Linked DNA regions of Homo sapiens: region 1 is linked to region 2. The links come from fine-mapping of genetic effects on gene expression. A gene starts in region 2. The other region holds a variant in brackets. All regions are shown on one strand. Distances are from middle to middle.

The links.
Region 1: its variant is fine-mapped to the expression of CCP110 in whole blood (INTERVAL, PIP 0.95).

Annotation. Positions count from the first base shown.
Region 1 is chr16:19,447,079-19,452,459 of GRCh38, forward strand. TMC5 (transmembrane channel like 5) reads left to right here. Exons shown (of 22, transcript NM_001261841.2): 5 at 2,464-2,553. Among named protein-coding and RNA genes, the nearest start is that of TMC5, 32 kb to the left of the region's middle. The variant A/G (reference allele first, on the strand shown) is at 2,442.
Region 2 is chr16:19,521,553-19,526,933 of GRCh38, forward strand. CCP110 (centriolar coiled-coil protein 110) reads left to right here and starts at 2,390. Exons shown (of 14, transcript NM_001323572.2): 1 at 2,390-2,536. It overlaps GDE1 (glycerophosphodiester phosphodiesterase 1), which reads right to left and starts at 546. Exons shown (of 6, transcript NM_016641.4): 1 at 152-546. The coding sequence starts at 412. RefSeq lists enhancers at 13-747, 58-227 and a silencer at 338-507.

The DNA.
Region 1 (5,381 bases), 74 kb before region 2:
GCTGCATAACAAACAACTCCAAAAATCCAGAGTCGTACAATAAACAAGCATTTTCTTCTTACGGGTCTGCAAGGTTGGTTGGCATTTGGCTGAACTACGCTGAGTTTGTTGTGCTTGGCTCTACGTCATGGGTTCTATTTAGTTCTAGTGTCCCTCTTCTTGGACCAGTGAGTGACCTAGGGCAATGTCTTCCCATGCCGTAAGCTGAAAGTGCTCAAAATGGCAAGCAGAAACACACGGTATCTTTAAAAGCCTTGGCTTGGAACTGGCACACTGTCACTTCTGTCATATTCCATTGTTCAAAGCAAGTCACACGACTAAGCCCAATATCAATGGAGGTAGTCAAGGTAGGGGAAATGTAATATTTGCTGAATAACAATTAATCTACTATAACAGTTAATATATATTAGAGTTTAATATGTTCGAGGATTATTTAATCATTTCACATGTGTTCACTGATTCAATTCCCACAACAATCCTATGTGAAGGTCCTATTATTATCCCTATTTATTTATTTATTTTTCAGACAAAATGCCCGCTCTTTAGTGCAGGCTGGAGTGCAGTGGTGCAATCTCAGCTCACTGCAGCCTTTACCTCCTGAGTGGCTGGGACTACAGGCACACTACTACCATGCCCAGCCAATTTTTTTATTTTTTGTAGAGACAGGGTTATGCCATGTTGCCCAAGCTGGTCTCAAACTCCTGTGCTCAAGCGACTGTCCCACTTTGGCCTCCCAAAGTGCCGAAATTACAGGCATACACCACCACACCTAGCCTGTTATCCCTATTTTAGAGACTAAGATATTGAAGCTCAGAGATGCTAAGACACACACCCAGGGGGCGCACAACTAGGAAGTAACAGGGCTGGGAGTTGATTCCCAGGCAAGAAGCTCCAGAAGGTCTTGCAATGTAATTTTGCATATTGTCCCCATTAAAATGTGCTCCATTTTCTCCATTTCTCCCAGCTAATTGGGAGGCTGAGGCTGGAGAATCACTTGAACCCGGGAGGCAGAGGTTGCAGTGAGCCGAGATTGCGTCACTGCACTCCAGCCTGTGTGACAGAGCAAGTCTCAAAAAAAAAAAAAAAAAAGAGTGGACTAGAGTAAGGCTATGTTAGAGTGCAGTTTATATAGTCAAACAAAGTATTATTTTGTAAAACTTGCTTTTCAGTTCTATATGTATAGGTGTGTCCTGGATCTCAGTGCAACCATTATTTACACACACACGCACACACACACACACACACACACTTTTTTACTGGGCTCCATGACTCAAGCCTGTAATCCCAACCCTTTGAGAGGCCAAGGCTGGCAGATTGTTTGAGCCGCCCAGAAGTTCGAGACCAGCCTGGATAACATGGTGAAACCCCCTCTCTACAAAAAATACAAAATATTAGCCAGGCATGGTGGTGCATGCTTGTAGTCCCAGCTACTCAGGAGGCTGAGATGGAAGGATTGCTTGAGCCTGGGAGGTCAAAGCTGCAGTGAGCTGAAATCGCACCACTGCACTCCAGCCTAGGTGACAGAGTGAGAACCTGTCTTAAAATATATATTAATATATATATTTAATGTAATTTTTTATATTATATTTTATATTAAAATATATATTTATAGATAATATATATATTTTAATATATTATATTTATTTTTATATTATATAACATATAAAATATAGATTACATGTAACATATAAAAATAAATATATTAGAAATACAAAAAATATATAAAATATATAGTATAAAATATATATTTATTTTTATATCATGTAGTTTATATGTATTTTTTTCTTTTTTTTTTTTTTTTGAGTCAGAGTCTCGCTCTGTTGCCCAAGCTGGTGTGCAGTGGCGCGATCTCGGCTCACTGCAAGCTCCACCTCCTGGGTTCATGCCATTCTGCCCCAGCCTCCCGAGTAGCTGGGACTACAGGCGCCCGCCACTACACCCGGCTAATTTTTTTGTATTTTTTTAGTAGGGACGGGGTTAGCCAGGATGGTCTCGATCTCCTGACCTCGTGATCCACCTGTCTCGGCCTCCCAAAGTGCTGGGATTACAGGCGTGAGCCACTGTGCCCGGCCACATATACATATATTTTTAGAGACAGGGTCTCATTATGTTGCCCAGGATGGTCTTGAACTTTTGGGCTCAAGTAATCCTCCCACCATGGCTTCCCAAAGCACTGGGATTACAGGCGTGAGCTACCTCACCTTGCCAACAATTATTTTTAACTATGGCTTAGTCAAATGAAAAACCATTGATCTAGGCTGATTATATTTAACAGCACTGTTTTTGTATTTTTGTCCTAGTTTCCACCCAAGTTCTTAATCAGTAGTCTGTTAGAACCTCAAAGACCAGGTCTCAGTCTTATTAGCCGTTACGAACCACTATTAGCACATCATAACTATTGCATGCCAGGAATGTCTAGTGTGGTGAGACTAATCGGCAAT[A/G]TCTCCTTCCTCTTCCCTCCAGTGAACCCTGCTTATGTAGGTGAAAGTGGTCCTGTCCATGCTTATGGAAACCCACCATTGTCTGAATGTGATTGGCACAAGTCACCCCAAGGTAAGTGATATGGTTTGGCTCTGTGTCCCCACCCAACTCTCATTTCAAATTGTAATCCCCATGTGTCGGGGGAGAGACCTGGTGGGAGGTGATTGGATCATGGGGGTGGTTTCCCCCATGCTGTTCTCATGATATTGAGGGAGTTCCCTTGAAATCTGATGGTTTAAAAGTGACAGCTTCCCCTGCACCCACTCTCTCTCCTGCCCCCATGTAAGATGTGCCCTTCTTTCCCCTATGCCTTCCACCACGTTTGTAAGTTTCCTGAGAAATGCCCCCCAGCCATGAGGAACTGTAAGACAATTAAACCTCTTTTGTCTATAAATTATGCAGTCTCAGGCAGTATTTTTATAGCAGTGTGAAAACAGACTAATACAGTAAGACTTAAAGGACAGTGACCAAAAAGTCAACCCTGGAGAAGGAACATGTCCAAGACAATCCACCCATTGCCATTTCCTTTGACCTCCAGTGTGGTTACTGATGCAGAACCTGCTTAACATATCATAATGGAGTTTTCTTTTAGATGTATAGTTTGTTGTCTTCTGGGGATCAGGGTGTCTTCATTAGGAATCTTCTGGTTGCAAGTGACAGAAACCCAACTCAAACAGGCATTAGCCCAGGGGGAATTCATTGGCTCATGTGGTAGAAGCGTATGGGGGAAACTTAAAGAAATGAAAGTAGAAGTATTAGTACCTTCCAGCACCTAGTACAGTGCCTGGCACGTAGTAGGTATTTTAGGGATATTTGTTAGATTAATTTGTTGAATGAGTACAGAAATCAGGACCTCAGTCTGAGGTCAGGGAACTCAATGTCACCTGGACTCTGGTTTCCCATCCATTTCTCATCTTTGTAAAACTTGCTTTTCAGTTCTGTATGTATAGGTATGTCCTGGATCCTCAGCACCTCTTTAAGTTAGACCTCATTCATCTCCGTCAGAGTCAGGACTTGTCCACAGGCCAGAGAACACGGCCAATAGCAGGCCCACGTGAGCCCTCTGCTTAGCCACCTCATTAGGAAGTCTTGCTTCCTCCCTGGGTCCATCTCTAATGCGGGGGAAGGACTCTGGCCAGTCTAACTGGAGCACATGCCTACACTTGAGCCAATCATTTTTACCACAAGGGACAAGACTGGGTCACCTGTCTATTCTGTGGCTAATGCCTGTGTTGGTGGGGACAAGATGCATTGATCAAAGTTTTTGTGAATATTCATATAATTATTATGATAATGGAGTGTGGAAGCAGTCAGACTGGTGAAAGATAGAAGGCGCTGCAATCAGTTAGGAAGCTCTCTAAGGATCACTGTGTGTGGTGATGAAGGTTGAATCAGAGGCAGAGACTGAAAAATAAAAAGGAAGCAACAAGCCAGGCACGGGGGTTATGCCTGTAATCCCAACACTTTGGGAGACCGAGGCGGTAGGATTGCTTGAGCCTGGGAGGTTGAGGCTGCAGTGAGCTGTGATCACGCCATTGCAGTCTAGCCTAGGTGACAGAGTGAGACCCTGTCTCAAAATCAAACAAACAAAAACAAAAAATGAAGCAACAGAGGAGAGAGACTAGACTAGGGAGTGCTGGAGCCACAAGGCAAATCTGTGAGCAACAAGGAATAAAGTAATGAGGTCCTCTATACAATGATGCGTGTGGAGAGAAGCCACTTAGAACTCTCACCTTTCAGCCCCATCGCCTATAAGATAACCGTTAGCCTCATCCTTCAAGAGATGTATGCCTTTTCAGGGAGGGTTAGATATTGCTACTTGGAAGGGAAAACCGTTGGGATATAAATGATCACACTGTCTATTTGGTCCCCACTGGGGCACAGAATGGCTTTAATTATCAGGGAGAATAAATATGTTTAAATGTTATGACTGCTCTGTCTTGCCAGCATGAGGTTTGGAGACTGTATAGAAAAAAACACACTCAGAGTGTTTTTTCTGTTCTCTTACTCAACAACCATCAACACAGAAGGCTTCTGTGAACAAATGGGTGGGGGTTTCTCCCCACACACCAAGAAAGCGATCAATTTTACAGCAGACATCGCTGGGTATCCTCCAATTCAATTCTGACACTATCTACCTGGAGATAGTGTCAGATCCCATAGGACAAAGGCGCAGTCCCCAAGACTATATACCTCCTTCAGACCCCAGCCACATGTCCAGGCCGCCGGAACTTTTTCTTTTTATTATTATTATTATTTTTAAGGATCTCACTCCGTTATTCAGGCTGGAGTGCAGTGGCACCATCTCAGCTCACTGCAACATCCGCCTCCCAGGTTCAAGCGATTCTTGTGCCTCAGCCTCCTGAGTAGCTGGCATTACAGGCATGCGCCACCACACCCAGCTCATTTTTGTATTTTTAGTAGAGACGGGGTTTCGGCATTTTGGCCAGGCTGGTCTCAAACTCCTGACCTCAACTGATCTGCCCACCTCGGCTTCCCAAAGTGCTGGGATTACAGGCATGAGCCACCGCACCCAGCCCCAGAACTTCTGACCAACCAGCTTCAAGTTGGGGTTCCCACGACCTCCTCCTTTGGTTTGGTTAATTTGCTGGAGCAGCTCACAGAACTTCGGGAAACTTATGTTTACTGGCTTATTACAAAGAATATTACAAGGGACATAGATGAAGAGATGCATTAGGTGAGGTATAGGGGAAGGGACACAGAGCTTCCATGCCCTCCCTGGGTGAGCCACCCTCCAGGAACCTCCCCGTCTTCAGCTATCAGAAAGCTACCTGAACCCAGTCCTCTTGGGCCTTTTATTGGGAGGCTTCATTACATAGACATGATTGACAAGCATGTAGAAATGAGACTGGATGGCCGGGCATGGTGGCTCTCACCTG
Region 2 (5,381 bases):
GACACTGGGAGCGATCAAGGGCCGGGAGTGTGCCTTGTGGACGAATGAGGAAGTGGGAAGGCCGTCCTGAGAAGATCGGGGAACCCTGGGAAGGAAAAGTAGAAGTCCGAGCTCTCGGGAGGACCGAGGGGCGCGAACGTGGGGGTCTCACCTGCCGAATGGCCGCCAGCGTGTTCTCGGGCGCGTCGTGGCTGCCGCCACGGTGGGCGATGGCAGAAATGCGGTCCCGGGGCTTGAGCACCTGCAGGGCCCTGCAAGAGGGCACCGGCTCAAAGCTGAAGACGCGCAGTAGAACGAAGAGGCTGCCGGTGAGGAGGCAGGCATTGACCGGGCTCCGCGTCACCAGCAGCAGCACTAGCAGCAGGAAGGAGAAAGGGCCCAGGAGGCCGCCCTGGTCCTCCCACAGCCACATGCCGGCGCCCGCACCGGCACGGACGGGAGTCCCGGACCCGCCGGGCTCCTGGGGCAGTAGAACGAGAAGCGAGGGGGAGGGTCCAAGGCACCGGCAGCAGCAGGAACCCTCTGAGGGGACCAGCGCCGCACAATGGCGGCAGCAGACACATCCAGAGAGGGAGTCGGCCGCCCAGCCAATCAGGGATCGGGATTCGCAGCGCCAGTGGGCGGAGCCGCTCCATGGCAACGGGGGAGGGCCCAGGCCCCAGGCCCCAGGCTCACGTTCCAAATCTAAGGTGGGTTAGGGTTTTCCGAGGTCTGAACTTCAACCTGGGCGTTCAGACTCCTAGGCGAGAAAAGGAGGGATAAGAACCATCCTAAAGCTGTAGGACTGGAAGGGATTTTAGTGACTCCTTTATCTGCCCTTGAGGAAACTGAATTCCAGGGAACCTGGAGAGGCAGGATGCTTAGACTATCAATTCAATTCAATTCAATTCAGTTCAGTTCAGTTCAATTCAAGATGTGCCAAATACCGGTCCAGGTGCTCCGGACACAGTTGAACAGGACCTACAGGGTTTTTGCTCTTATGGGATTCACATTCTTGTGGGAGGAAATAAAAGTTAGCAAGTACACCTAACGTTTACAGAGCACTTACCATGTCCCAGGTACTTGACGAGCAAACACTTTATATGCTTATCTCATTCTCAATACAGCCTAACAGTTACTATCAGGAGACTGATTTCAATCGACTTTATTTTCCAGATTCTGGGGGACTGGAAGAGCCTAGCAAAGAAGGCACAATCGGATTATAAAACTGGAAGGGGTTTTAAGGATTCCCTTATTTCATAGATGCGGAAACTGAGGATAGGTGAATTAAGCAGTTAATGGCAGGGTGGGGACTGACATAAAGGCCTCCCCAGTGATTTGTGACATTTTCACTCCTCCTCCCCCTAATCTTACTTCTGCTAAGGGCTTTTGTACCAGGCACTGTACAGGAGTTACCTCAACTGTGCCTCACAACCACCCTTGTGATAGGCACTTTTAAAACCCCCATTTTACATATGCAAAAACAGGCACTGGAAGGAGGGTAAGAGAGATAGACCATGAAGCCGAGTTAGGGAGTGAAAAGGGGCCCCTGGACATATTTTGGAGGGCTGGTAACATTTTTATGTAGAGAACTTTGCAAAAATATTCAGGGATTTTTCTGTTACCTTTTTTTCCTTTAGTGCATTTTCCCACTGATTTGCAAAAGGGGATAGATGTCTTAAGCCTTCCAGTTGGCATCTAGGATTCAGCCTTTTTTTTTTTTTCTTTCAGACAGTCTCACTCTATCGCCCAGGTTGGAATGCAGTGGTGCAATCATGGCTCACTGCAACGTCGACCTCCTGGGCTCAAGCGATCTTCCGACCTCAGCCTCCCGAGTAGCTGGGATCACAGGCTCGCGCCACCCCACCCGGCTAACGTTTAAAATTTTTGTAGAGATGCCGTCTCCCTTTGTTGCCCAGGCTGATCTCGAACTCCTGGGCTCAAGCGATCCTTCCGCCTCGGCTTCCAAAATGTTGGAATTATAGGCGTAAGCCATCACGCCCGGTGGGTTCAGCAAGTTTTTACCTACAAGAAAATATTTTGGTGAATGTTACATGTTTTCTAACGGCTGCATAGAAAGGGGTTATCTTTATACAGATAAGAAAAAAATGGCAACTTCAAGGAACACTTCAGGGGGCTTCAGACCCTGAGGGGTGTTCCTATTCTACTAAATAAGTAAATTTATTAATAAATTCTAGTCTCTAGCTTGCAAGGAAGACTACGTTTCCCGGCGTGCAGCGTGCTGGCCGTAAGCATTACGTCCTCCATCGCGGGCGCGCAATGCACCTCGGGGATGGTAGTGTTCTGGTGGCCCAACGGTTTTAACAGCCCGGGAATCAACCACCGGAAGTGCCGGCCCTGAGAGGTGGAGTCGGGGTGGCAGCGGCGGCGGTTGCCAGGAGCCCGCGTTGCAGCCTGAGATCCGTAATATGGCGGGGAGGAGGAGGAGAAGGCGGCGGCGGACCGAGCTGCGCTCTGTCAGTACCATTTGAGCCATTCGCTTCCTGACAAGGCCCGTGGCGAGGGGAGAGGAGCTGAAGGGGCCGTGGGGGATCAGGTGTGTGCATGAGGAGGGGGCTTGAGCCTTGACGGGTCCGGGCTGAGAGGTGGTCTGGCGAGGCGAAATTGGCGCCCTGAGAAGCTGAGGGCGGGCTCTGTGCTGGGCTCCCGGGCCTCGAGCCCCCTGGAAAGGCGCCGGCTGTTGGGAGGCGGGACCCCGGGGGCAGCCAGCACCGGGCGCTGAGGTGATGCTCCGATGCTGGCCCCGCCTGGAGGGCCCTCGGTTTGGAGTCTTAAATCGGAGGAGCTGGAGGAGGTGGGCATGGGGCGCTGGGGAGAGGGCAGGGGGCCGTCCCTGGTGAATAAAACTCGGGCCAGAGCCGGAGAACCCCATCGTGGTGATCAAATTGTTTGGGCCGTTTTTCTTCTCCCTCCCACGGTGCTGGAGAGGGAGGCTTCCCCGGGGTGTGCATTGGCCATTTATGAGCCCCTGTTTCCACAACCAAGGCCCTAGGAGCGCTGCTTACTTCGCCTTTGCCACTCTGGGGCATAAACTTGAGGATAATAAAGTAATCGATTGCCCCTGGAGCTGCTAGATGGTTCCCACCCTTTGATTCTATTCTGGTTACGATCCAAGCTCCCTACCCCCAGTTTAGGCAAATGGCAGCCATCTCGAGATTGATTTGACGGGGAGAGGTCTAGGGACAGGGAAATGAGGAAGCCGTTGTCCCCTTTTCTATATTTTTCAGTTTCATTTGAAACCTACGGGGAACCAAGCACTGTCGCTGCCCTCCAGGAATTCATACTCTACTGCTAAAAATCGTCATCATCATTATCCTCTTAATAAGAAAAGCAGTCCCCATTATTTGTTGCTTTCTGCGTGTTCTGCACTACGTTAATTGCCCTACATGCATTAGCTCATTGAATTCTTACAACATTCCTTTGAGACGGATACCGTGATCATCCCTCTTTTACAGAGGACGAAACAGGTGTGGGGATGGTAACTGGCTTGCCAAGAACTTGCAGCTAGTACGCATCTGAATAAGAAATCTTCCCCTTTACCGCTTTTACAAGAAGTTTGCGTCTTTGGCGGAACTGATGGGCAAAGAAACACTAGGTTCTGCAAAAAAAAAGCAGGATCTGTTCTGTGTTACTTTTACCACTCTTTTCAGTGACATGTCTGGCAGAGCACGGGTAAGGAGCAGATAGGACCATGAGTCTACGGGGTTTGCAAAGAGGCTCATTTGCACAAGGGTCAGTGGTTCTCTGTGGTATAAATGGAGAAGACGGCATGTCTGAACCTGCTGTAGCTGACAAATTATTACTGGAAGTGGACCAGTGATGCCTGATGGCAAGATATAGAGCAGTAGATTTGTGGCTGGGGTAGCCTTGTAGTCAGGGCTCCCTTAAAATAAAACCTTGCTGACAGTGGTAATTGTAGTGTGAAAGGCATAGTGTCCTCTTGCTTAATCATGGGATACAGACTGCTCACTTCTTAAATGGTTACCTTTGCAGTTTAAGAGGTACCAGTTTCTCTGGGACTAGAGCCATGGTGAAATTTCCATTCTCTAAATTCCACTCTTCCTTGCTAGCTTCGGTGTATAGTCCGCCTTCTTTTTTTCTTCTGGTTTACATTATTGTTTGAGCTTATTATTATTCTTATTCATTTATTCAATACTTTTATCAAGTGCCTGCTGTGTGCTGATACTGTTCTGTGTAATGGGGATTCAGTGAACAAGACTGAAAAGGTACCTGTACTTATGGCGCTTACATTTTGGTGGAGGAAGACAGACAAAAATCAAGGAAATAAACACGATAATTTCAGATAGTGGTAAGTGCTATGAAAATTGGGAAACAGCAGGGTAATGTGATAGTGATAGAGGCAGAGTTCATTTAGATGGGGTCATCAGGGATGCCTTCTCTGAGGAGGGGATATCCAAGCCGAGACTGAAGAATAAGAAGGATCCAGTCATGCTCTAAGGATCATCTAGTAATTTGTATAATCTCCATATTAGCACTCATATTTGAATGAGTAATGCGTTGTCATATGCTGTGTTGTGCTGTAATAATAATATAGTACTATACATCTGCAAGATATAGGACATATATGTACTATTTAAGGGATGTGAATAACTTTCTGAAACAATGAGGCATAGCTCTATGATGTTGAAAGAAAAATAAAACTATGGCCATAAAAGTATTATATTTCCTTAATAATTTCCCTCACTTCTAAAATTGAATTTCATGCTTTGCTTGAGTATCCATAGAAGATATATTACTTTATTTGTATAATCTATTTACATTCTGTGTATTGCTGAATGCATGGCATGATTAAAAAAATAAAATATTTGAGCAGAAATGGGGTTAAGAAATAATGTGAGTTGAAACCTAGACCTAAAAAAAGGCTATGCCTTAAGGTGTTTTATTGTTTTTACTTTTGCTTTTTTAAAATAAATAAAAGCTTGTAAAATAGTCTCACTCACACTGTAGAGAACCATTTGTTTGTCATTAGATTCCTACTTTGCATAGATTGAACACAAATAATTACAATTGATTGAATAGTAGGAAGAAGTTTTGTTATTGATTAAACTATTTAGAAAAAATAGCATTATATCTTATTTTTTTATAACCTGATTATAATTTTGACTATTTTTTTTTTCCCATTTCTCATTGCACTATAATTTGTCCCTGATACTTTGGTGTACTGAATTTTTAAGTACTTTGAGGCCTACCGAGGACATATCCTATTTCATCTTTGCATATCCCACATCATGAATTGAATTTCCCTGCCCTCTCTTTTTTTGTTAAGAAGCTAATTATTTTAAAATGAAGACATAAAGGAACATGATTGTATTCTATTTTCTGTTTCCATAGTTCATACCCTTGCTGGTTATGATTCTGAT